7 linked regions of the Homo sapiens genome follow. The protein of the gene in region 1 interacts with the protein of each later gene in a pairwise test. Each region holds a gene or a part of one and is shown on either strand. Other genes may lie near its edges.

The links.
Region 2: the proteins of SNCA (region 1) and ZNF57 interact in binary tests that used the Homo sapiens proteins (3 or more experiments, as listed by UniProt).
Region 3: the proteins of SNCA (region 1) and COPS3 interact in binary tests that used the Homo sapiens proteins (3 or more experiments, as listed by UniProt).
Region 4: the proteins of SNCA (region 1) and BRK1 interact in binary tests that used the Homo sapiens proteins (3 or more experiments, as listed by UniProt).
Region 5: the proteins of SNCA (region 1) and CENPV interact in binary tests that used the Homo sapiens proteins (3 or more experiments, as listed by UniProt).
Region 6: the proteins of SNCA (region 1) and SDCBP interact in binary tests that used the Homo sapiens proteins (3 or more experiments, as listed by UniProt).
Region 7: the proteins of SNCA (region 1) and CALM3 interact in binary tests that used the Homo sapiens proteins (3 or more experiments, as listed by UniProt).

What each region holds. Positions count from the first base shown.
Region 1 is NC_000004.12:89,729,162-89,732,661, reverse strand, and holds part of SNCA (alpha-synuclein), read left to right. Parts: intron 1-3,384; coding exon 3,385-3,468; intron 3,469-3,500. UniProt on the Homo sapiens protein: Neuronal protein that plays several roles in synaptic activity such as regulation of synaptic vesicle trafficking and subsequent neurotransmitter release.
Region 2 is NC_000019.10:2,910,928-2,914,427, forward strand, and holds part of ZNF57 (zinc finger protein 57), read left to right. Parts: intron 1-3,500. UniProt on the Homo sapiens protein: May be involved in transcriptional regulation.
Region 3 is NC_000017.11:17,267,747-17,271,246, forward strand, and holds part of COPS3 (COP9 signalosome complex subunit 3), read right to left. Parts: intron 3,263-3,500; coding exon 3,150-3,262; intron 3,062-3,149; coding exon 3,012-3,061; intron 300-3,011; exon of another isoform or gene 232-299; coding exon 139-231; intron 1-138. UniProt on the Homo sapiens protein: Component of the COP9 signalosome complex (CSN), a complex involved in various cellular and developmental processes.
Region 4 is NC_000003.12:10,122,175-10,125,674, forward strand, and holds part of BRK1 (protein BRICK1), read left to right. Parts: intron 1-3,451; coding exon 3,452-3,500. UniProt on the Homo sapiens protein: Involved in regulation of actin and microtubule organization. Part of a WAVE complex that activates the Arp2/3 complex. As component of the WAVE1 complex, required for BDNF-NTRK2 endocytic trafficking and signaling from early endosomes.
Region 5 is NC_000017.11:16,350,670-16,354,905, reverse strand, and holds the start of CENPV (centromere protein V), read left to right. Parts: upstream 1-1,436; 5' UTR 1,437-1,469; coding exon 1,470-1,879; intron 1,880-4,236. UniProt on the Homo sapiens protein: Required for distribution of pericentromeric heterochromatin in interphase nuclei and for centromere formation and organization, chromosome alignment and cytokinesis.
Region 6 is NC_000008.11:58,577,261-58,580,309, forward strand, and holds part of SDCBP (syntenin-1), read left to right. Parts: intron 1-772; coding exon 773-948; intron 949-2,362; coding exon 2,363-2,534; intron 2,535-3,049. UniProt on the Homo sapiens protein: Multifunctional adapter protein involved in diverse array of functions including trafficking of transmembrane proteins, neuro and immunomodulation, exosome biogenesis, and tumorigenesis.
Region 7 is NC_000019.10:46,607,806-46,611,282, forward strand, and holds the end of CALM3 (calmodulin-3), read left to right. Parts: intron 1-18; exon of another isoform or gene 19-391; coding exon 392-535; exon of another isoform or gene 536-676; coding exon 677-783; exon of another isoform or gene 784-1,040; coding exon 1,041-1,176; exon of another isoform or gene 1,177-1,200; intron 1,201-1,292; exon of another isoform or gene 1,293-1,319; coding exon 1,320-1,348; 3' UTR 1,349-2,977; downstream 2,978-3,477. UniProt on the Homo sapiens protein: Calmodulin acts as part of a calcium signal transduction pathway by mediating the control of a large number of enzymes, ion channels, aquaporins and other proteins through calcium-binding. Calcium-binding is required for the activation of calmodulin.

The sequences.
Region 1 (3,500 bases):
AACTGCAATATATCATCACACCTAAAGAAATAAACAATAATTCTTAAATATCAAGTCAGTGTTCAAATTTCCCCAACTACCTCATATGTGTTTTCCATTTGCTTATGTAGGGTTCCCAATGAGAATGAAATAAAGTTCTTAGGTTGCAATTGGCTAATGCTCTCTCACTTCTACTTTAAGCGGCAGGTTCCCACTAACTTCTTTTTAGTTGCAATTTACTTATTGAAATTAGACGTATTCTTTGTCTTGTGTAGTTTCTCACAGTGCAAAATTTGCTGATTGTAGCCACTGTTGTAAGCAATGAACATGTTTTTCACCACCTTATATTTGCTGTAAGTTGTCAGTGATAGTTAAATGTTAATCAAATTCAAATTCGGATCACGTAGGGCTTTTCTTTTTTTGTTTTCTTTTTCTATTTATATATTTATTTATTTATTTTGAGACGGAGTCTCACTCCGTCACCAGGCTGGAGTGCAATGGTGTGATCTGGGCTCACTGCAATCTCCACCTCCCGGGTTCAAGTGATTCCCCTGGCTCAGTCTCCCGAGTAGCTGGGACTATAGGAGAACCACCACGCCCGGCTAACTTTTTGTATTTTAGTAGAGATGGGGTTTCACCATGTTGGCCAGGATGCTATAGATCTCCTGACCTCACCGATCATGTAGGACTTCAATTGTCGAACAAACGAACCTTTAATAGCAGTTACACCATTAGGATGACCTGATCCAACATCGAGGTCGTAAACCCTATTGTCGATTTGGACTCTAGAATAGGATTGTGCTGTCATCCCTAGTGTAGCTTGTTCCCACTTGATGAAGTTATTGGATCAGTGAACAATAGCCCACTTAAACTAGTACAGTCTTAGTTTAAGATGGTGATGTGTATGTACTTCCATCAGAGGGCACATAATACAGTAAATCCTCACTTAACTTCATCAATAGTTTCTGGAAACTGTGACTTGAAGCAAAACAACATATAACAAAACCAGTTTTACCATTGGCTAATTGATATAAGCAAGAATTAAGTCCTATGGCAAATTTCTGGACACAAAAACACCATCAAACTCCTAAATAAAGATAAATCACTTCTGACATTAAACATTGAAATTAATGTGAGCTATATATACGTTTAAGAAAGATTAATACAAACAAGTCAAATAACTTACCTAATTATTTCGGTGGAGGCCGCAGGTGGTTGGAGCCTATCCTGGCAGCTCAGGGAGCAATATGGGAACCCACCCCGGACAGGACGCTGTTCCATTACTGCAGGGTGCTCTTGTACACACCCACTCACCCAGGCTGGAACCATGCAGACACACACACTCACCTAACCTACACATCTGTGTACATCCTTCAAAGTTCAGCCAAATAACATATAAACAAATCCAGTAATATCCATCAGTCTTAGTTCCGTCATAACAACTCCTTTTTGATCATCAAACAACAAACAGGGTAGGTCTGCCATATTTACTTGTCTGGTCCATATCAAAATTTTCTAACAAATTATATTAGAAAATCAAATCTCTGTCAGTTTCAAAATCATGGAAAAAAATTTGCCTTATTTCCCTTATACTTGGATATCCTAACAGTAATCTAAATATTAATGAGAAAGTTAATGATGTCGTTTCCTTCTCCCTGTTGTAAAGAAGGTTTTGCTGTCCCGTTTGATCACTAAGACTAATTGACACTCAGAAAAAGCATAGGAAACTTCTCAGCATCACAAAAGCTCTGTCATCTAGAGAAGCTAGGACTTGAGCTCAAGTCCTGTGACATGGAAGGCCTTGTGCCTAGCCATCCTGCAGCAGAGGCGTATCTACCAAGAAGTGAAACACTACGAAAACAGTATGTTTACTCCACATTTTAAAGTGAGGTAGTTTGGGGTGGTTCATATTTTATTTAATTTATATATTATTTGGATTTTTTTTAGTTTATAAAAAGGGCATTGGCAAGGGCAGAATGATCTGTAAGCTTCTCTGCCCACCTACCATAAGCATGATCTTTAGTGTGACCTTTTCTTACTGTTAGCCATTTTCTTATACTTCTGCGTCCCTGTCAGTCACTTCCATGTGAAGACATGGGGAAGCTTTTTTACATCAGACATGTTGTTGAAAATCAGCCGCGTTGGCTGAGGGATTATTTGATCTCTTTCTCCAAGTCCCTTTAGGCTCACATTGCCTCTCTGTTCTTTGAATTTTCACTTACCTTTATCTTCTTATAATTACTTTGCTGAAATAAATGCAAAGCAACAAAAGGTATTTAGTGAAGAATACCAACAAAGCCATGACCATTTCAGGCTGAGTTTTGTAGTATTCTTTGTCTAGGAAGAGATACCTAGAAAAATTTTCTGACCATGTATTTGATTATTTTCCTTCAATATGTATAGTCTCAGTCTTCAAATTTCAGAAAAGAATTTGTTTCTTCATTGTCATTTAAAATTAATGTGTTAAATATGTATGCTTTTACATTATAAGTGGTTATAAAAGTTAAACACTTAGAAAAAAAGTCAAAATAACATACATACTATCCAACAAAATAACTTTCATATTTTATTGTGTTTTCTTCCAAACTTTTTACCTTTGCGTCTGAATTCTGTGTAGGTTGTATCTATAATATAGACAACACTTTATAGCCTGCTAAATATTATACCATAAATAGGTAGTTGTTACATAATTCTCAGGTAATAGTAATACAGGTCTTTATCATAATCTACTGAGTAGTTGAATGATAATTTTTTTTAAGACAAGGTCTCCCTCTGTCACCCAGGCTAGAATGCAGTGGCATGCACATGGCTCACTGTAGCCTCTACCTCCCAGGCTCAAGTGATCCTCCTGCCTCAGCCTCCCAAGTGGCTGGGACTGTAGGCATGTGCCACCATGCCCAGCTATTTATTTGTATTTTTAGTAGAGATGGGGTTTCATTGTAACAGCCCAGGCTGGTCTTGAACTCCTGGACTCAAATGATCCACCTGCCTCAGCCTCCCAAAGTGCTGAAATCACAGGAGTGAACCACTGCACCCAGCAATAATTTTTTAACTCTTCATTATTCATTGAACATTTAGTTAACAATTCTAAAAATTTTGTTTCCTGCTGTCATTGATCTTGTGAAAAATATCTTTGGACTATAGCTGTGGATTATTTCCTAAATAGTAAATTACTTGAGCAAAAAGTTTACATACTTTGAGGGTTGATAACCCATGTTGCCGCAATGTTTCCCCGGAGGCATTGTGGAGTTTAGAATGCCAGTAGTAATATTAAGGTGTGCCATTTTCAAGATCCGTGGCCAACATCCCTATATGTAAGATTTTTCCAAAACATGGTTCTGATTTTTAAAAGTGAAAAATGCTACTTCATCATGTTCTTTTTGTGCTTCTTACTTTAAATATTAGAATGAAGAAGGAGCCCCACAGGAAGGAATTCTGGAAGATATGCCTGTGGATCCTGACAATGAGGCTTATGAAATGCCTTCTGAGGTAGGAGTCCAAGCTGAATCTTTCTAACAAGA
Region 2 (3,500 bases), on another chromosome or scaffold:
GTTGTTCCTTATTTTGTCTTCCACTCTTTTTCTGCCTTTTTTGGTTTTGATTGCATGTTTTGTGTGATTCCATTTTTTCTCCTTTCTTAGCAAGTCAGGTATGCTTCTCTTTCCTTTTTTTAGTGATAGCCCTAGAGATATTTATTTATTTATTTGGCAGGGTCTTGCTCTATCAGCCAGGTTGGAGTGCAGTGGTACAATCATGGCTCACTGCAGCCTTAATCTCCTGGGCTCAAGCCATCCTGTTACCTCAGCTTCCCAAGTAGCTAGGACCACAGGGTATATGCCTCCAAGCCCAGCTTATTTTTAAAAACTTTTTGTGGCCGGGCACGGTGGCTCATGCCTGTAATCCCAGCACTCTGGGAGGCCGAGGTGGGTGGATCACCTGAGGTCAGGAGTTTGAGACCAGCCTGGCCAACATGGTGAAACCCTGTCTCTACAAAAATACCAAAAAAATTAGCTGGGCATGATGGCGGGTGCCTGTAATCCCAGCTGCTCGGGAGGCTGATGCGGGAGAATCTCCTGAACCCGAGAGGCAGAGGTTGCAGTGAACTGAGATTGTGTCATCGCACTCCAGCCTGGGCGACAGAGGGAGAGTCTGTCTCAAAAACAAAAAAAAACGACAACAAAAAAAACTTTGTAAAGACAGGGTGTCACTATGTTGCCCAGACTGGTCTTGAACTCCTGGCCTCAAGCAATCCTCCCGCCCCAGCCTCCCAAAATGCTGGCATTTCAGGCATGAGCCACCGCACCCAACCTAGAAGTTTTCATTACATGTCTTCAGGCTCAGAGTCTTTCCTCAGCCACACCCAGTCTACTCATGTGTCCATTAAAGTCATTCTCCATTTCTGTTACAGTGCTTTTCAAATCTCTCCCATGGCTTTTTCATTCTTAGGATTTCCACTTCTCAGCCTGTATTGCCTGTTTTTGCATGTTGTCTACTTTTTCCATTAGAGCACTTCACCTGTTAATCATACTTGTTTTAAATTCCCAGTCTGATAATTCCAATGTCCCTGCCATATATGAGGGGTTCTGCTTTATCTCTTCAAGCTCTGTCTTTTGCCTTTTAGTATGCCTTGTCATTTCTTTCTGGAAAGCCAGACGCAATGTACTGGGTGAAAGGCACTGAAGTAAATAGACCTTTAGTAACCCAGTGGTGAGATGTGGGCAGAGGGCAAGGATTCCCTGATCCTTTGATGACGTCTCAGTCTATTCTTGAGCCTGTGCCCCGCGACACTGAACTTCACAAGTGCTTCTCAGTTCTTCCTTCTCCTCTCACTTGGCGGGACAAGATGAATAGAGGAAGATGATGGGGGATACATCTCTTTCCACAGGTAATTTAGACACTGATGAAACCCCAACAGGTGAGGCTCTGATCAAATAGTTTTAAGGGAAAGGCCCGGTGAGAAAGAGCAGAAATATCTAGCCTATTTCAAAATCATTATTCTTCTCCTCTACAAGACTGGGCCCCCTGAGATTGCTAACTCAGACTTGGGCCCGCTGTGCCCCCAGCAATTCATCAGTTACAGCTCAGGGTTTCCCATCTAAGTAACGGTTCCCACAGAGGCTTCTGTTCATGGTTGCGTGTTCTGGTAAGTTATGACTCTCTGTATCCGCCTCTCTCTTCAGTTTGAGGGGGCAGAGCTTGCCTTGTGACATCAGTTCTCTGAAGGATGGAAGAAGAGCTTGTTGAGGTTTCAGTTTGTTCAGCTTTTTGTTACAAGGGAATAATAACTTCCAAGCTCCTTACATGCTGGACCAAAAACTAGAAGTCATTTAACTTTTAAAAAGAACTGCCACACTGTTTTCTTAATTGGTTGTACCATTTTACATTCCCACCAGCAATGTGTGAAGATTCCTGTTTCTCCATATCCTTGCCAAAACTTATTTTCTTTTTTAGTTTTTTATTTTACCCATCCTAGTGGGTGAGAAGTGGTATCTCCTTTTTGTTTTGATTTGCATTTCTTTGATGACTAATTACTGACAATGTTTATTTTTCTTGGAGAAATGTCTATTTACATCCTTTCCCCACTTTTTTGTTGTTGAGACTGAGTCTTGCCCTGTCACCCAGGCTGGAGTGCAATGGTGCGATCTCGGCTCACTGCAACCTCTGCCTCCTGGGTTCAAGCGATTCTCCCTCCTCAGCCTCCTGAGTAGCTGGGATTACAGGCATCCGCCACCACGCCCAGCTAATTTTTGTGTTTTTAGTAGAGACGGGGTTTCACCATATTGGCTCAGCTGGTCTCAAACTGCTGACCTTGTGATCCACCCACCTCTAAAGTGCTGAGATGACAGGTGTGAGCCACTGTGCCTGGCTGCTAAATCAGTTTTGTTTGATCTTTTCAAACAACTAGCTTTGGTTTCATTGATTTTTCTCTATTGTTTTACTGTTCTCTATTTCATTAATTTGCCTGTAATATTTATTATTTCCTTACTCCTAATTGCTTAGGTTTAGTTTTATTTTCCTATTGTGTCGAGGTGGACCACGTTAGGTTGTTGATTTGCAATCTTTAGGATAGGTATTTATAGCTATTAACTTCCTTTATATAAGTTTTGGTATATTATGTCTTTATTTTACATCCATCTCGAAGTATTTCCCTTTTGATTTCTCTTTGATCCATTAGTTATGGAGGAGTGTGTTAATATCCACATATTAGTGAATTTGCCAAATTTTCTGTATTAGTTTCAGATTTCATTTCTCATTCCATTGTGGTCAGAGAACATACTTATTTCTGGTTTTTTTTTTGGTGGGGGGAGACTAACTCTCACTCTGTCAGTGATGTGATCAGAGCTCACTGCAACTTCTGTCTTCAAGCAGTTCTCGTGCCTCACCCTCCCAAGTAGCTGGGAATCCACGTGTGTGCCACCATACCCAGCAAATTTTTGCATTTTTAGTAGAGACAGGGTCTCACTATGTTGCCCAGGCTGGTCTCGAACACCTGAGCTCCAGCGATCCATCTGCCTTGATCTCCCAAAATCCTGGGATTACAGGCGTGAGCCACCGCGCCCGGCCAATATTTTGTATTTCTATTGTTTAAAATGTGTTGAGGTTTCTTCTATGGCCTAGCAAAGGGTCTCTTTTACAGAACGTTCTTCTGCACTTGAGAAGAATGTGTGTTTTGCTGTTGTTGGGTTCAGTGTTCTGCAGATGTCTGCTATGTCTAAATGACTTATAGTGTTCAATTATTTTATTTCCTCGTATTTCACCTAGATGTTCTCTCATTAAAAAGTGGGGTAATTGATGATGCTGTGCTCAACTAAAAAAGAAAAAAGAATGGGTGTTTATGTTTCAACTTGTATTTTTAATTATCCATTTCTTTTATTTTTATTTATTTTTTTGAGTCTTGCTCTGTCACCTAGGCTAGAGTGACATTCTTGGCTGGAGAGCACAATCTTGGCTCACCGCAACCTCCACCTCCTGGGTTCAAGTGATTCTCCTGCCTCAGCCTCCTGAGTAGCTAGGATTACAGGCACGCACCACCATGCCCAGCAAAATTTGT
Region 3 (3,500 bases), on another chromosome or scaffold:
ATGTACCTACATATTCCAACTTCTATAACACATCACAATATCGCCAACTTGCCTGTGTTTATCAAACCCAATGTTGAGCAAGCCCATAAACAACCTACACCTCTGACTTGGTGTGAATCACACACTTTGGTTGCTTACCTGGCAGAGATCAGCATGTATTGAGGTCAGCTGGTTTGTATTCATCTGCATCTTGTCTATGGCTTGCTTAAGGATGCCAATTCCTCGCAGGGGCTGTCAGAAATGACATCTCTTTCAGATAAGTTCTCAAAGATGGCAGCACATTGGATCTTATGTTGTCACTTATAAATAAAAAATAACACTAATTGATAGGTTCCTTTAAATAGCAATATGAGGTTTCCATACTCTTTCAGGAAATTTCTGTCCCATTTAAGTCAGAAAACTTTTCTTAAGCTGTTTCTTGGAATTTTTAGATAACTCAGCACCATTTTTTAAATCATAAAAAGCTTTTATTTTTACAATGAAGATCAATAATCAAAAACAGTATTACTTTCTCAACAGTTTATTATATTAACATCTAAACAAATGAAAACTTTCCAAATCACTTATTATACAAGAGACAACAGCCTATGCTTAGGAAAATTACTTGTGGCTAAGGGTGTTGGCATTTTCCCATAGGGCAGTCTACCCCTTACCTGGTAGTAAATTACTACCAAAACTAACACCATAGATTTCAAAAGGACTGTTTCCTGCCCTGATTATAAATAAGAAGACCAAGTGTCAAGTAAGGCATAATCAGTTTTTGGCAGACTAAAATATAGTCTCTTCCAAAATTGCTGGGCACGGTGGCTCACACCTGTAATCCCAGCATTTTGGGAGGCCAAGATGGGTGGATCATGAGGTCAGGAGATCAAGATTATCCTGGCCAACATGGCAAAACCCCATGTCTACTAAAAATACAAAAATTAGCCGGGCATGGTGGGATGTGCCTGTGGTCCCAGCTACTCAGGAGGCTGAGGCAGGAGAATCGCTTGAACCCGGGAGGCGGAGGTTGCAGTGAGCTGAGATCGCGCCACTGCACTCCAGCCTGGGCAACAGAGCAAGACCCCATCTCAAAAAAACAACAACAACAACAACAACAACAAAAATATATATATATATATGTGAAGAGACTAAAAATAGCTCAATAACTTACAGCTTTTTCAAAAACTCATGATTTTTCTTAACCATCTCTTTCAAACATGGTTACTTAGTACTACAAAATAACAACTGGTTCTATTTTCAGCCTCTTTCAAACCACTAATCTTAAATTTACTTTCAAATTAAAAAGAAACACCTGGCTGGGTGAAGTGGCTCACACCTGTAATCTCAGCCCTTTGGGAGGCTGAAGCAGGCGGATCACCAGAGGTCAGGAGTTCTAGAGGCTAGCCTGGCCAACATGGCAAAACCTCACCTCTATTAAAAATACAAAAATCACTGGGAGGCCGAGGCAGGCGGATCGCCTGTGGTCAGGAGTTTGACACCAGCCTGGCAAACATGGTGAAACCCTGTCTCTACTAAAAATACAAAAATTAGCCGGGCATGGTGTCAGGCACCTGTAATCCCAGCTACTTGGGAGGCTGAGGCAGAAGAACTGCTTGAACCCAGGAGGCGGAAGTTGCAGTGAGCCGAGATTGCGCCATTGCACTCCAGCCTGGGTGACAGAGCGAGACTCTGTCTCAAAAAACAAAACAAAACAAAAATCAGCTGGGAAAGGTGACATGCGCCTGTAGTCCCAGCTACTCAGGAGGCTGAGGCACGAGAATCGCCTGAAGCTGGAAGGTGGAGGTTGCAGTGAGCTGAGATCACACCACTGCACTCCAGCCTAGGCAACAGAATGAGACTCCATTTCAAAAAAATAAATAACTAAATAAATTTTTTAAAAATCCACATTATAAATTATGTATTATAAAAGATAAAGAATGAAATAACTGTTCAGATTAAGGGACACTAAAGAAACAAAGCAGTCTAATGCAATCCATGGTCCACGGTTTTCTTTTGCTATATAATATATAGTACACTGTCCAAACAGCTAATGTCCTTTTATAGCAAAAGACAGTCCTTTTCACTGGGGGAAAATCTAAATGGGGTCTGTCAATTTGTTGATGCATTATATTAACGTTCATTTCTGGGCCGGGCGTGGTGGCTCACGCCTGTAATCCTGGCACTTTGGGAGGCCAAGGCGGGAGGATTGCCTGAGCTCAGGAGTTCGAGACCAGCCTGGCAACATGGTGAAACCCCGTCTCTACTAAAATACAAAAAATTAGCTGGGCGTGGCAGCATGCACCTGTAGTCCCCAGCTACTCAGGAGGCTGAGGCAGAAGAATTGCTTGAACCTGGGAGGTGGAGGTTGCAGTGACCAGAGATGGCGCCACTGCACTCCAGCCTAGGCATCAGAGCGAGACTCTGTCTCCAAAAAAAAAAACAGTAAGAGTTCATTTCTGGATGCTGACCATTACACTATACTATGTAACAGAATGTCCTAATTTTTAGGCTTTACCCACTGAAGTATTTAGGGATAAAGAACAGCAATAGCATATGTGCAACTTACTCTACAATGGCTCAGAATAAAAGAGGAAGAGAAAAAAAAAAGAATAAGTGCGGTAAAATGTTAACATTTGGAAAATCTAGGTAAAATGTATGAGAATTTTTTATATTATTTTTGAAGCTTTTTGTAAGGCTAAAATAATGTCCTAATTAAAAGTTAAAAGAAAAAATGTAACAGACAAAACCCAGCATATTACAACATAAAGGGTACTGGCTTGGTAATTCCAACTACTTGGTAGTTCCAGCAGCAGCCTCCCTGAGGTGCCAAACCACCCCGTGCCTCCACCTCATTCAGGGGATGCGGGGACTGCCTGAGCTTACAGCAATGGCTGTGAGTGCTCTCAAGTGACCACAGATATCTAGGTGGTGGATGCTCAGTACTAACTGGAATCTTGATAAAGTAATTCATTGTGTAAGCTAGTTACATATTATAACAAAACTAGGAATACTTGAATAGTATTTCTTACCTGTTTTCTTTCCACAAGTGCATTTGTTAGCTGATGGCAAAGCCCAGCAACTAGATACAATAACAAAATATTCAAAATATAAATATAACCACAAGGGCAAAATATTTTCAATGGAGAATAAAATGTTATTTAGCTTACAAGTGTCTGTTGCATATCGAATGTGCTCCCCATTACAAGTGCTGATGAAGAGCTGAACCTGTGAGAATAGCGTTTCGAAGTCAGGAACACTGGGCATAGAAAACTTCACAAACCTAGAATAAGGAGAAAAGAATCAAATTACCCTGATAGTTCATGGGATAAAATACAGAAACAATGTATGCAAGAAATCCATCCTGCCTCCAATACTCTGTAAAATTAAATGAGCAACAGTATTTTTTAGAATTAAGAACTAGGCCAGGACAGTGGCTCATGCCCGTAATCCAAGCACTTTGGGAGGCTGAGGCAGGAGGACTGCTTAAGGCCAGGAGTTTGAGACCAGTCTGAGCAACA
Region 4 (3,500 bases), on another chromosome or scaffold:
GGCCTCCCAAAGTGCTGGAATTACAGGCATGAGCCACCGCGCCTGGCCACTTGTAACTTTCAATGGCTATTTTAATAGTCTCATTAATACGCTATATCAAACCATTCCAATCATGGGCATTTGGTTTTGTTGCTTTTTCACCATCTTAAATAGTAGTGATGCACATTCTTATTTGTAAAATCTTTATCCAAAGAGGGAAGTCATAACCAAAGACCAAGTACATGAATAACTTACAAATTAGAAATTCAGAGGCTGGCACGGTGCCTCACGCCTGTAATCCTAGGACTTTGAGAGGCCAAGGCAGGTGGATTGCTTGAGTTCAGGAGTTTGAGATCAGCCTGGGCAACAAAGTGAGACCCCCATATCTACCAAAACAAAAAACAAAAAAATTAGCCAGGCACAGTGGCATCCACCTACTGAGTAGTAATTGCAGCTACTCGGGAGGCTGAGGTGGAAGGATCACTTGAACCTAGGAGTTGGAGGGTGCAGTAAGCTATGATTGCAACACTGAACTCTAGCCTGGGTGACAGAGCAAGACCATGTCTCTTTTAAAAAAAAAAATTCATCCGTAAATGTTTAGATAAATACAGAAGAGGAAGAATTATTATGTCCATCTGGCAAGACCTCTCAGAGATAGAATTTGAACTTAGCCTTGAAGGAGATAGGCAGGCAAGATGAGTAAGATTTGGACATAATAAGATGAAAGTTGAGGCAAGATCAGGGTGTAGGAAGATTTGTCAAAATGGATGCTGAAGCGCTTTTGCAAAACAGCCAGGGAATAGATGAAAAGGAAACTTGTTAGCTAAGTGTTAAATCATTGCGTGGGAGAGTCTCAGCGAATATTTCAGACTTGAAAACTGAAGTTTATTGAGAGATGACTGAACAACAATGTTGGAGGAGAGAGTAGAAGATAATGACCATGCTAAGATACCTTTTCTCTCATATGTTGAGAATAGTTGGAAAAAGAATAGTTCCTGTTACAGAAGTTTGCAGAGAAAAAGTTGTTTTAAATTAAATCTGGTTTCATTTTGAATGAGATGGTAAAAGAAGATTGGAAAAGCTAGAGGAAGAAGAATAATTTTGGCTGTTTTCACAGATGGAATGTGGGCTTTATCGGGTATTTGATGCTCTCCAACTTTTCTCTAGTTCTGAAAGGCCTTTGCCTCTAGGAGCAACAGTAGTGACATGGCTTTAATGAGCTCAGAACTCTCACACCTTCCCTCCCCATAATTTCTGCTGCTTTCTTGGCCTCTACTTTCTTTCCTTTTTTTTTTTTTTTGAGACGGAGTCTCACTCTGTTTCCCAGGCTGGAGTGCAGTGGTGCAATCTCGGCTCACTGCTACCTCCATCTCCCGGGTTCAAGCAGTTCTCTGCCTCAGCCTCCCGAATAGCTGGAATTACAGGCGCCCGCCACCACACCCGGCTAATTTTTTGTATTTTTAATAGAGACGGGGTTTCATTGTGTTAGCCAGGATGGTCTCCATCTCCTGACCTCGTGATCCACTGCCTTGGCCTCACAAAGTGCTGGGATTACAGGCCTGAGCCACCGTGCCTGGCCTTTTTTTTTTTTTTTTTTTTTGAGATGGAGTCTCACTCTGTCACCCAGGCTGCAGTGCAGTGGTGCAATCCCAGCTCACTGCAACCTCCGCCTCCCAGGTTCAAGTGATTCTCCTGCCTCAGCCTCCCGAGTAGCTGGGACTAGAGGCACCCGCCACCACACCCAGCTAATTTTGTATTTTTAGTAGAGATGGGGTTTCACCATGTTAGCCAGGCTGGTCTCAAACTTCTGACCTCAGTTGATCTGCCCACCTTGGCTTCCCAAAGTGCTGGGATTACAGGCGTGAGCCATCACGCCCAGCCTCGTTTCTTTCCTGTTGAGATTATTTTCTTATTCTTGCCATGTCCCCTCTCTTGAAAGTCTTAGTTAGGCCATTAGTAAATGGCTGTACAGCCTTGGTGTATTCATTTGCTATTCCTGGCATAACATATTACCACACAGGCTGGGCACAGTGGCTCACACTTGTAATCTCAGCACTTTGGGAGGCCAAGGCGGGCGGATCACGAGGACAAGAGATTGAGACAATCCTGGCCAACATGGTGAAACCCCGTCTCTACTAAAAATACAAAAAAAAAAAATTAGCTGGGCATGGTGGCGCACACCTGTAGTCCCAGCTACCTAGGAGGCTGAGGCAGGAGAATCGCTTGAACCCGGGAGGCAGAGGTGGCAGTGAGCCAAGATTGCGTCACTGCACTCCAGCCTGGAAACAGAGTGAGACTCCATCTCAAAAAAAAAAACCAAAAAAACAAATTACCACACATTTTGTGGCTTAAACCACATACATTTATTATTTACCATGTGTAGGTCATAAATCAAACACTGGTCACTGGGCTAGCAATCTTCACACCTTGGCCAGCAGTCTTCACACCTTGGCCTTCTGAAGTATTAGGATTACAGGCATGAGTCACTGCTCCTGGCCTGGGCTCCAATCAGGGTTTCAGCAGGACTGCCTTCCTTTCTGGAGGCTCTAGGAGAGGGTCTAGTTCCTCGAATATTGGGTTGTTGGCAGAATTCAGTTTCTCGTGGTTGTAGGACTGAGATCTCTGTTTTGTTGCTGGCTGTGAGCTGAGAGTTGTTCCCAGCTTCTAAAGGTCACTTACATCCCTTGGTTCATGGCTCCCTTCTTCCACTTTCAAAGCCAACAATGGCAGATTGCATCCCCTTCACACTTGGAATCTCTTTTTCTTCTTCCATTTCATCTCTGACCCCCTTCCTATGCCTTTCTCACCTACATTTGTGGACTATGATTAGATTGGGCCCAAATGGACAATCCAAGACAAACTCTAGGATCTCAAGGTTCTTAACCTTAATCATACCTGCAAAGCCCTGTTTCCTCATGTATAATCCATATTCACAGGATCCAGGGATTAGAGAAAGGACTTTTTTTTGAGACAGAGTTTTGCTGTTTGACCCAGGCTGGAGTGAAGTGGCGAGATCTTGGCTCACTGCAACCTTTGCCCCCCCCGGTTCAAGTGATTTTCCTGCCTCAGCCTCTTAAGTAGCTGGGATTACAGGCATGTGCCATCATGCCTGGCTAATTTTTGTATTTTTAGTAAGAGACAGGGTTTCATGATGTTGGCCAGGCTGGTCCCGAACTCTTGACCTCAGGTGATCCACCCGCCTAGTCCTCCCAAAGTGCTAGGATTACAGGCATGAGCCACCGTGCCCTGCAGGAAAGGACGTTTTTGTGGGGCCGTTATTCTCTACTTGCAACACTTGATAGGAAGTTCAGCAGATCCACTCTAAGCAACTGTGCTATGAGTGGATCTTAGCACTGTATCCATTTCCATTTGTATTCTGTGTATTATTCCTCTTTTTCATTGTAGGTGTTGTGTGTGTCTGTGTCTGTGTTTGGAGTGACATTAATCCTGAACACCAGTCTCTTTTTCTCAGATATGTCTTGTCGTTCAAGACTTGCAACACTAAACGAGAAATTGACAGC
Region 5 (4,236 bases), on another chromosome or scaffold:
CCCAACACTTGGGGAGAACTAGGCGGGAGGATCGCTTGAGGCCAGGAGTTAGAGACCAGCCTGGGCAACATAGGGAAACCCGGTATCTACAAAACAACAATAGCAACAATTCGCTGGGGCGGGGGGGGGGGGGGGGGGGCGCCGCCTGTTGTTCCAGCTACTCAGCTACTCCAGAGGCCCAGGCGGCAGGATCGCTTGAGGCCAGGAGTTCTTGGCTACACTGAGCCGAGATCCCGCTACTGCACTCCAGTCTGTCAGATCCTGTATGGAAAAAAAAAAAAAAAGACAAAATAGTTAAACTATGCCTTTAATTCAATAAACTATTAAACTAACAATACCATGAAGAAAATCAGAATAAAGAAGAAAGATAGGCTGACGCAGGAGAATCGCTGGAACGGTGAGGCGGAGGTTGCGTGAACCGAGATCGCGCCACTGCACTCCAGCCTGGCGACAGAGTGAGACTCCAAAAAAGAAAAAAAAAAAAAAAAAAAAAAGAAAGATAGGCTGGGCCCGGTGGCTCAGGCCTGTAATCCCAGCGCTTTGGGAGGCCGAGGCGGATGGATCACCTGAGGTCGGGAGTATTCGGCACCAGCCTGACCAACATGGTGAAACCCCGTCTCTACTAAAAATACAAAATTAGCCGGGTGTGGTGGCGAATGCCTGTAATCCCAGCTACTCAGGAGGCTGAGGCAGGAGAATCGCTTGAACCTGGGAGGCGGAGGTTGCGGTGAGGCGAGATCGCGTCACTGCACTCCAGCCTGGGCAACAAGAGCGAAACTCGGTCTGAAAAAAGAAGAAGAAGGAGAAGGAGAAGAAGACTATCTGGGTTCCATCAACGATTCTCGTGCCTTTTGTCTTTAAACTTTGGTGCTGCCTTCATCAAAATCATACTAATGAAATTCGACGCGCGGGTCATTCATTTAATTAAAATGAAACCCCAAATCTGTTGACTATTGGTATCCTCATGACACTGTTCTATAATGTGACAGAAAAGACGAAGGTGAAGAACTATGGTTTCGGCCGCTGTTACACAGGAGGTAGCAGGTGGCAGGCCGTTTACACAAATTAGCTCGTTTTTGGAGACGAAGTTACCCCAGGCTGCCCGCTCGGATGAGCCTGCGAATTCAGGCCCAACCCAGGCCCCTCCAGGTCGGGAAGGTACGAAGAGCCCGCTGGATTCACACAGGGCAGGGGCGCCTTCGCAGGTGCGAGTGGATTCTGGGTATCGCGAGCGTAGGCCCAGGCGCAGCCCCTCTGCCTGCGGGACTGAACAGGCAGGTGCGTCCCAGCGGCCGGGCGGGCCGGGTCTCCCTCCTGCGGGCAGGCGCCGCGCTGCGGGGCGCGGCTGGCGGAGCGGGGCAGCCGGGCGCAGCGCCCCCTGGGCCTGAAGACTGGCGGGCGGCGGGGGCGCGCGCAGGCCGGCGGGGGCGCGCCGCGCTGCGAGGCCTGCGCGCCAGGCTGCGGGAGCCATGCGGCGATCGAGGAGCTCTGCGGCCGCCAAGCTGCGCGGGCAGAAGCGGTCCGGGGCCTCCGCGGCCCCCGCGGCCTCCGCGGCCGCTGCCTTGGCACCCAGCGCCACCCGCACACGGCGCTCCGCTAGCCAGGCCGGGAGCAAGAGCCAGGCGGTGGAGAAGCCGCCGTCGGAGAAGCCGCGGCTGAGGCGCTCGTCGCCGCGGGCCCAGGAGGAGGGCCCGGGGGAGCCGCCGCCGCCTGAGCTGGCGTTGCTCCCGCCACCGCCGCCGCCGCCGCCGACTCCCGCGACCCCGACGTCCTCGGCGTCCAACCTGGACCTGGGCGAGCAGCGGGAGCGCTGGGAGACGTTCCAGAAGCGGCAGAAGCTTACCTCCGAGGGTGCCGCCAAGCTCCTGCTAGACACCTTGTGAGTGCGGCGGGCCGGGGGGCGCGGGAGCCGTTGCCACGCGGACCCCCTCGGCAGGAGTCGGGCTCGCAGCCCGCGTGCAGGCCTTGGGCGCCTTTCAGCTCTGAGCCTTCCACGTTACGGAGCCGACGCGGCTCCCCCGTTAGCACTGGGGTTATTCCTTAATTCTAAGGGCGGCGGGGCGGGGCGGTGCTTCTAGGGCTGTGTGGCCTGGGAATGGAAAGGGGGCTTCGTCCGGAGCTTGAGGGCGCGCGCAGCCGTCTTGGGACACAAAGAGTCTTTCCCGGCCATAAGCATCGTGCTCGGGGACGTTGTCTCTTGCTGGCGCGCAAAGGGTGTGGGGGCCTTTCTTAGTGAAAAGAACATAAATCCCACGGCTTTCTCTTACCCGAATCCCCTTTTTTTTTGTGTTTGCACACGTGTTTTTGAGGGTGGGTGGAAGGGAAAGGTAGAAGCGTTGAAGGAAGCATGAATAGTTTTGAACTCACTGGGAAGCAAAATCCCGTCATTGTTCCAGGCACTGCCAGGGAGGGAGCAGGGGGCGGAGGTTATTGATCCGGGAGAGAAGCGCGCGCGAAGAGATGCTCCGGCCTCGCGCGGCGGCGGGGATACCTACGTAGGGAGGCTTTTATGTGCTCAGCCAGCTAATGCTCCCTGCCGCTCGCCCTCCTGGCTGCTCCGCAGTCTTTTAGATGGCCCGAGGAGCATCTCGAGTGTCCGCGATTTGGGAAAGAGCTTTTAACTGGGCTGTTAAAGGGCTGCCTTCTTTTCTCCAAATGCGATCTGGATTCCTGCCTCGGGGAACAGTTGTGCTACAGAGAGATATTTTAACGCCCTGATATTATATTTCAGTGTCAATTTTACGAATTAAAAAGAACAATCAAAACACTAGGGGGAAAAAACCGACAAGAATAACCTAGCAATTGCATAACCTGAGAATTACTTCTTTTCTTGAACATGTTCCTTTGAGCTTCTTGCGGAAGAAATTCTCTTAGGATGAGTCGTCCCCGACAGAAGATACATATTTGGTTTTCTGTGTGCTTCACTTTTTGGTTTTTCATCTTGGACTGCACACTGAATTTTTAAAAAACGTTCATCCATCAAACATTTGAGCACCTATAGGGTGACGGCTGCCTCTGGGCAGAAGGAATACGAAGATCCTTAGGAATGTAAAACTCATGGTGTCTTCAAGGCATACAGAAAAAAAGAAGAATGTAAAACTCAAATTTGAGATAAATTTTTATTTTAAGACAAACTGATAAATGGTCAAGAAAAAGTTTTAAAATATTGACATAAAAAAGCTGTTTTTCTCCCACTAGATTGCCATGACTTTGTACTTATAAAGTCTACTAAATTATATTCAAAAAGTGTGTATAACTGTACCATTTTCGTTAAAATATTGTGTAGAAAAAAGTTTGGGGGAATATATAACAAATAATTAACTGTAGATCCCTCTGGGTGTAAAGATTACAGGAGGCTTTCACTTTGAGCACTCTCAAATAGTGTGAAGTTTGGAGTTTTTACAATAAGCATTATGTGTGCAGAAAAAATTAAAATACATAAACGTAAAGAAACATGAAAAAATGATCAGTCTTAATCATGCAAATTAAAACTGCAGTGAGCTATTTTTCCTATAATTATTGCCTGAGACTGTACAGTGAAATGTTTTCTCATTTATTTATCGGGTAAGGGTGTTCAATCCTTTTGGAAAGCGATTTTAAGACATTTATCAGATCTTAATGTTCATTTCTGAGTTTGGCTTATATATAAGCTTTAAAGGGTTAAAATTGTATGTAGGCTGGGTGAGGTGGCTCATGCCTGTAATCCCAGCACTTTGGGAGGCCGAGGCGGGTGGATCACCTGAGGTGGGGAGTTTGAGACTGCCTGACCAACATGGAGAAACCCCGTCTCTACTAAAAATACAAAATTAGCTGGGTGTGGTGGTGGGCGCCTGTAATCCCAGCTACTCGGGAGGCTGAGGCAGGAGAATCATTTGAACCCTGGAGGTGGAGGTTGCGGTGGGCTGAAATCGCGTCACTGCACTCCAGCCTGGGCAACAAGAATGAAACTCCCTCTCAAAAAAAAAAAATTCTATGTAATGTGTATTACAACTATGTAAAACGCATGTGTATGAAGAATACTGGAAAGAAATAGAGCAAAAATATAAGAGCCTTTATTAAGTTTCTCAAAAGGCTCTTCTGGACCTCTGGACTTGATTGAGTACACAGTCTTATTTTTCATAGCAGCCTGTACCTCCTTTATCACAATCATAATTAATTATTATTTGAGTAAATTGTTAAGGTCGGTAAGGGTAGCAATCGTGTCTGCTGTATCTTGTTTAGTGTTCTCTCCTTCGT
Region 6 (3,049 bases), on another chromosome or scaffold:
GCTTAGGATTGTAGAAGTAGATGCACTTATATTTTACCAGGCTTATTCTTCTTTTATACTTACCTATTTATATTTTGTTCAACTTCTGATTGAGATTTTACATAAGTAAAAATATCCATGTGAGTGTAGTTATTGGTTAACAGTATTTGAGTTTTCTGTATTTATTTCATTGTGTGTTCTTTATAAGCCTGTGCATGTGGATTTAATATGCCCATCTTTTTAGTCTAACAAATAAACTTTAATCTTACTTGATTATACACAATTTAGCAAATGGGTAAAGGAATGCTTCAGCTCAAAAGGTAGAATTATGACCTTAAACTGTCATTTATTAAGCTGTAAAAGAACTCATCAAACTTTCTAACATGTGACTCGCTTTTCCCCTAAATATGATTATGTACTGATAATTTGGTATTCTATCAGACTCAGACGCTTGCATTTATTAAAGTTGTCCTACTGTATTTTCCTTAGTTTTGTATTCCAAGTTGAAGGGGGGGATTGTGGTTGGTCAGGTGGGTCATGATTTGGTATAGAAATTGCCATTGAAATCTCACTTTTTTGCCTTATTCTTTGGAGTTGCTGTCTTGATAAATTTTTCAGTTTCTTTTGAGGTGATAACTTAATATACTCATATAGTTTTTCCTTTTTTTCTTTTTCTTTCTTTTTTGTCACTGGGGTAGAGTTTTCAACATAAACAGTTGTTTCCTAATTTTCCAGCGTTTAAAACCGTATCATAGTAGTGGTAAATGACAAAAATTATTTTCTTATTATCTAGGGTATATTTGTTCAGCTAGTCCAGGCTAATTCTCCAGCCTCATTGGTTGGTCTGAGATTTGGGGACCAAGTACTTCAGATCAATGGTGAAAACTGTGCAGGATGGAGCTCTGATAAAGCGCACAAGGTGCTCAAACAGGCTTTTGGAGAGAAGATTACCATGACCATTCGTGACAGGTAAGCTGTTACTAAACAGCTCAAATGAAAATTCAATACTAGTTTTCCATTTTTTTGGGCTTTCAGAGTTTGTGAGTATATTATTTTGTTGCAGAAAATGATCAAATGTTATTGATGAGCCTTATAGTCTTGCAGTTGTGTGGTGCAGATTTTTCTTACATTGTTTTTAAAGCATTCTGATACGATACCTTATTTCAGAGTTTATAGGACAAATCTCTCTAGAAAATAGAAAACGTATGTTGGAGAAGTAACTGAGTTGCAGGGCATCTCTGGGCTCACTTTCCAACTTACTGCTTAGATACATCCAGCCTAGGGTGTTCACACACAGTGGTCCCTCATTGTGAGGGTCAGAGCCCATGCAGACTTCCAAGTAGTATGGGAGTTCTGAAAACCGTATCAAGACTTTTGGGTAGTTATGAAGCAGTAGTTTTCAAGAACATGGAATATTCTATTTAGCAGCTCATTCATTTAGAACTTAAACATTTAGCACATGAAATAGGGGCCTCCATTTATTTTCTTGTCTACTCCATACCCAATTAAGGGTAGACGTATATTGCATTGTTACAGTAAGCTTTGAGTTTTTGTTCCTTCTCAGTGAAACTTCTGTTTTATCTTTGTGTTTCCAGTTTCTCATTCAGTTTAGGTATTTCGTAAATGTTTCAGATGAATGTCCTTTTTACTTTCTATCTAAGCAGAGTTTCAAAGAGTAAGTTGTACTAACAGGAAGAAATGCCTCTTCTGAATTTAATAATGTAAACACAAGTTGATCCTAAAACCCTTATGATAACATGATAACAGAGTTTATAGAGAATCAAGCAAATGTGACTGCTATAACAACTCTAGAGGGACAGCTGGATGCCTTTTAATAATAGCTGCATGCCTCCCTTTCCAAAGGGGCTTGAGGAACTTAAGTCTTACTGCTGCTCTAGTTTTTCTTTTCAAAGATAGCAATGTATAAAATTTTCAAAATCAAGATGTGAGAAATATTTTAAAGGTTTTAAATAAAAGAAATAGTCCTAAAAATGATTTGGCTCTAGAAAATACCAAAAGTTAATAAAAAATAAAAATTATCTTTACCACTGTGATTTAGTTAAAAAGCCTATGTCATTCTTAATGCTGTAAAGTCTAATTATAAAAGAAAAACATATTGATAAAACCATATAAAGCAGTTGTCTTTTATACTTAAAGAAGGAAATGTTGATTAGTAAATCAGTCAAACCATAATGAATAAACTTAAAAAAAACTTTTACACAAAGATGTTCCGTGAATGTATAAAATCAGAGCCATAAGTTGCTCTTATTAGAAACAGTGTTTATTATAAAAGTATCCAATATGGCAACATTTATGCTATATGAAATCCATTAAAATGTTTAGCTTAGAATTAAGTTTTTAATTGAACCAATTATGTTTGTAGGCCCTTTGAACGGACGATTACCATGCATAAGGATAGCACTGGACATGTTGGTTTTATCTTTAAAAATGGAAAAATAACATCCATAGTGAAAGATAGCTCTGCAGCCAGAAATGGTCTTCTCACGGAACATAACATCTGTGAAATCAATGGACAGAATGTCATTGGATTGAAGGTAAGGAACAGACTTTGTGCCATGTTCTGCTGCAGTTTTAGAAAATGTCTGTCTTTTGACTGTATTTAGGTGGCGCTGTTTTCATATTGACTTAGGTGGGAGATGGGGAACGTGGGGCCTGAACTCTTGGTCTGGCCAGTCACCGGAATTATTTGGGCTGTCATCTAGAACTACAGTTCCTATAACAAGTGGGCTGGAATAAATGATCTCAGAAGTACCTCACACTAGAATTCTGTGGAAATATGGGCAACAAAGATTTAGAATATGAATAGTGGCCCAGCATTTCTCAATCCAGGAATATAAGGAAATGAATAATAGTTTTGGTTCATATTAATACTTTATTTTTATAGTTTTTCTCCTCCACAAATTCCTAAATAAGTCTGTCTTAAGGTCAAAAAGTTTTAAGCATGACCTCCTCATTTCATAGAATTTGATTTAGAATACACAGTTAATAAGAGGAGATGGTAATATTGTATATGGGGAAAATTATCTAATATTCAGAAAGGAAAAGTTTT
Region 7 (3,477 bases), on another chromosome or scaffold:
ACAAAGAATCCTTTCGGCTCTCATTCACTCCATGACTTTGGTTCATTTCATCATTTCAAGGGAGAAGTCAAAGCCAGGGACCAAACAGAAATGTAGAATCATCTAAGGACAGCTGTCAGACCATTTTCCCCACTGTCTTCACTGGCTGGCCAGAAAAATAGCTTCACCTAGCACAGTGTTGATGTTCAATAACTGTTGAATGAAGGTTGGAAGGGCTTTGCCCTGAGCACTGAGGAGAGAGAGCTGGTTGCGTGGGACTTGAAGTCTGTCTCAGTTTCTTTAGGTGGGACTGATGCCCTTGGCCTTCCTCCAGGGAAGGCATCCAGCATCCAGAGGTAAGGATTCTCCTGTGGACCTTGTGACCTCTGACTCCTCCCCCTTCTTCCCCCAGAGTTCAAGGAGGCCTTCTCCCTCTTTGACAAGGATGGAGATGGCACTATCACCACCAAGGAGTTGGGGACAGTGATGAGATCCCTGGGACAGAACCCCACTGAAGCAGAGCTGCAGGATATGATCAATGAGGTGGATGCAGATGGTGAGCCCCACAGAGCGCGTGGGCAGCCCTGCTCCTGGTCACCCCGAGTGACTGCAGGGAGCCTCTCTCAGGGTGATGGATGAGCCCGTGTCTCTCAGGGCCCAGGCCAAGAGCATTCTCCATCCTTTCCCCACCTTCCAGGGAACGGGACCATTGACTTCCCGGAGTTCCTGACCATGATGGCCAGAAAGATGAAGGACACAGACAGTGAGGAGGAGATCCGAGAGGCGTTCCGTGTCTTTGACAAGGTAAGCAGCCCTCTCCAGGGGCGGCTCTGAGACTGACGCCAGCCTTCAGGCAGACAGGCGGAACTGGAGCCACGGAGCTACCACTTCCAGGAGGTCCGGGTCCCGGTGCCAGCCTCATTGCCAACCTGCTCTGCCACCTCAGGCAGCCTCCCTCACTGTGCTCACTGCTGAGGGATGGTGATGACAGCCACCCCTCTCACTGCCTCTCTCCCCACCGGGAGAAGTGCCCAGTGAAAGGCTTTATCCCCAACCCCCAGGATGGGAATGGCTACATCAGCGCCGCAGAGCTGCGTCACGTAATGACGAACCTGGGGGAGAAGCTGACCGATGAGGAGGTGGATGAGATGATCAGGGAGGCTGACATCGATGGAGATGGCCAGGTCAATTATGAAGGTGAGTCAAGGCCAGGCTTGATCTCTGGAACAAGAAGAGAATCGCAGCTTCAGGAACAAGCCCCCAGATCCCTCTTGTTGGGGAGGGCCGCTCGCCACTTAGCCTGCCCGCCTGACCTCCTCTCTCTCTGCTTCACTCCACAGAGTTTGTACAGATGATGACTGCAAAGTGAAGGCCCCCCGGGCAGCTGGCGATGCCCGTTCTCTTGATCTCTCTCTTCTCGCGCGCGCACTCTCTCTTCAACACTCCCCTGCGTACCCCGGTTCTAGCAAACACCAATTGATTGACTGAGAATCTGATAAAGCAACAAAAGATTTGTCCCAAGCTGCATGATTGCTCTTTCTCCTTCTTCCCTGAGTCTCTCTCCATGCCCCTCATCTCTTCCTTTTGCCCTCGCCTCTTCCATCCATGTCTTCCAAGGCCTGATGCATTCATAAGTTGAAGCCCTCCCCAGATCCCCTTGGGGAGCCTCTGCCCTCCTCCAGCCCGGATGGCTCTCCTCCATTTTGGTTTGTTTCCTCTTGTTTGTCATCTTATTTTGGGTGCTGGGGTGGCTGCCAGCCCTGTCCCGGGACCTGCTGGGAGGGACAAGAGGCCCTCCCCCAGGCAGAAGAGCATGCCCTTTGCCGTTGCATGCAACCAGCCCTGTGATTCCACGTGCAGATCCCAGCAGCCTGTTGGGGCAGGGGTGCCAAGAGAGGCATTCCAGAAGGACTGAGGGGGCGTTGAGGAATTGTGGCGTTGACTGGATGTGGCCCAGGAGGGGGTCGAGGGGGCCAACTCACAGAAGGGGACTGACAGTGGGCAACACTCACATCCCACTGGCTGCTGTTCTGAAACCATCTGATTGGCTTTCTGAGGTTTGGCTGGGTGGGGACTGCTCATTTGGCCACTCTGCAAATTGGACTTGCCCGCGTTCCTGAAGCGCTCTCGAGCTGTTCTGTAAATACCTGGTGCTAACATCCCATGCCGCTCCCTCCTCACGATGCACCCACCGCCCTGAGGGCCCGTCCTAGGAATGGATGTGGGGATGGTCGCTTTGTAATGTGCTGGTTCTCTTTTTTTTTCTTTCCCCTCTATGGCCCTTAAGACTTTCATTTTGTTCAGAACCATGCTGGGCTAGCTAAAGGGTGGGGAGAGGGAAGATGGGCCCCACCACGCTCTCAAGAGAACGCACCTGCAATAAAACAGTCTTGTCGGCCAGCTGCCCAGGGGACGGCAGCTACAGCAGCCTCTGCGTCCTGGTCCGCCAGCACCTCCCGCTTCTCCGTGGTGACTTGGCGCCGCTTCCTCACATCTGTGCTCCGTGCCCTCTTCCCTGCCTCTTCCCTCGCCCACCTGCCTGCCCCCATACTCCCCCAGCGGAGAGCATGATCCGTGCCCTTGCTTCTGACTTTCGCCTCTGGGACAAGTAAGTCAATGTGGGCAGTTCAGTCGTCTGGGTTTTTTCCCCTTTTCTGTTCATTTCATCTGGCTCCCCCCACCACCTCCCCACCCCACCCCCCACCCCCTGCTTCCCCTCACTGCCCAGGTCGATCAAGTGGCTTTTCCTGGGACCTGCCCAGCTTTGAGAATCTCTTCTCATCCACCCTCTGGCACCCAGCCTCTGAGGGAAGGAGGGATGGGGCATAGTGGGAGACCCAGCCAAGAGCTGAGGGTAAGGGCAGGTAGGCGTGAGGCTGTGGACATTTTCGGAATGTTTTGGTTTTGTTTTTTTTAAACCGGGCAATATTGTGTTCAGTTCAAGCTGTGAAGAAAAATATATATCAATGTTTTCCAATAAAATACAGTGACTACCTGATTTGGCTCCTCTCCTCCTGTCTCAGTTTCTGGCCTGCCCCCCTCCAACACACATACACACCAACCCCAGCACTGACTCCTTTGGCCCAGAGGTGGAAGAGCCTCTCCTCAAAGCTGGCTCTGAAGCTGTGTCCAGTCAGTGCAGCCCAGTGGACGCCTCTGAACCACAGTTCTGATCCCAGCTAGATCGCAGGGTCATCAACGGCAGGGTCCTGTCCTAGAGATAGTCGCACAAATGGACTGAAAGGCGGGGACTGAGAAGGCTCCTCTGAGGCAGGCCCATCATGCCATGGGAGCACACAGAGAAGGGGTCAGCCCAGTCAGGTGGCAGGACTGAGCTGAGACCTACCTGAAAGATGGGCAGTCCCCTAGCCGGGTAGGGGAAGGACGGAAGGGCATTCCAGTTCGGGGGGACGACATGTATGGAAGCCCTGAGGCAAGAGAAGCCCAGACATCAAGGAACTGAAGGAAATCCAGCGAGACTGGGTGAGAGCCCCGAGC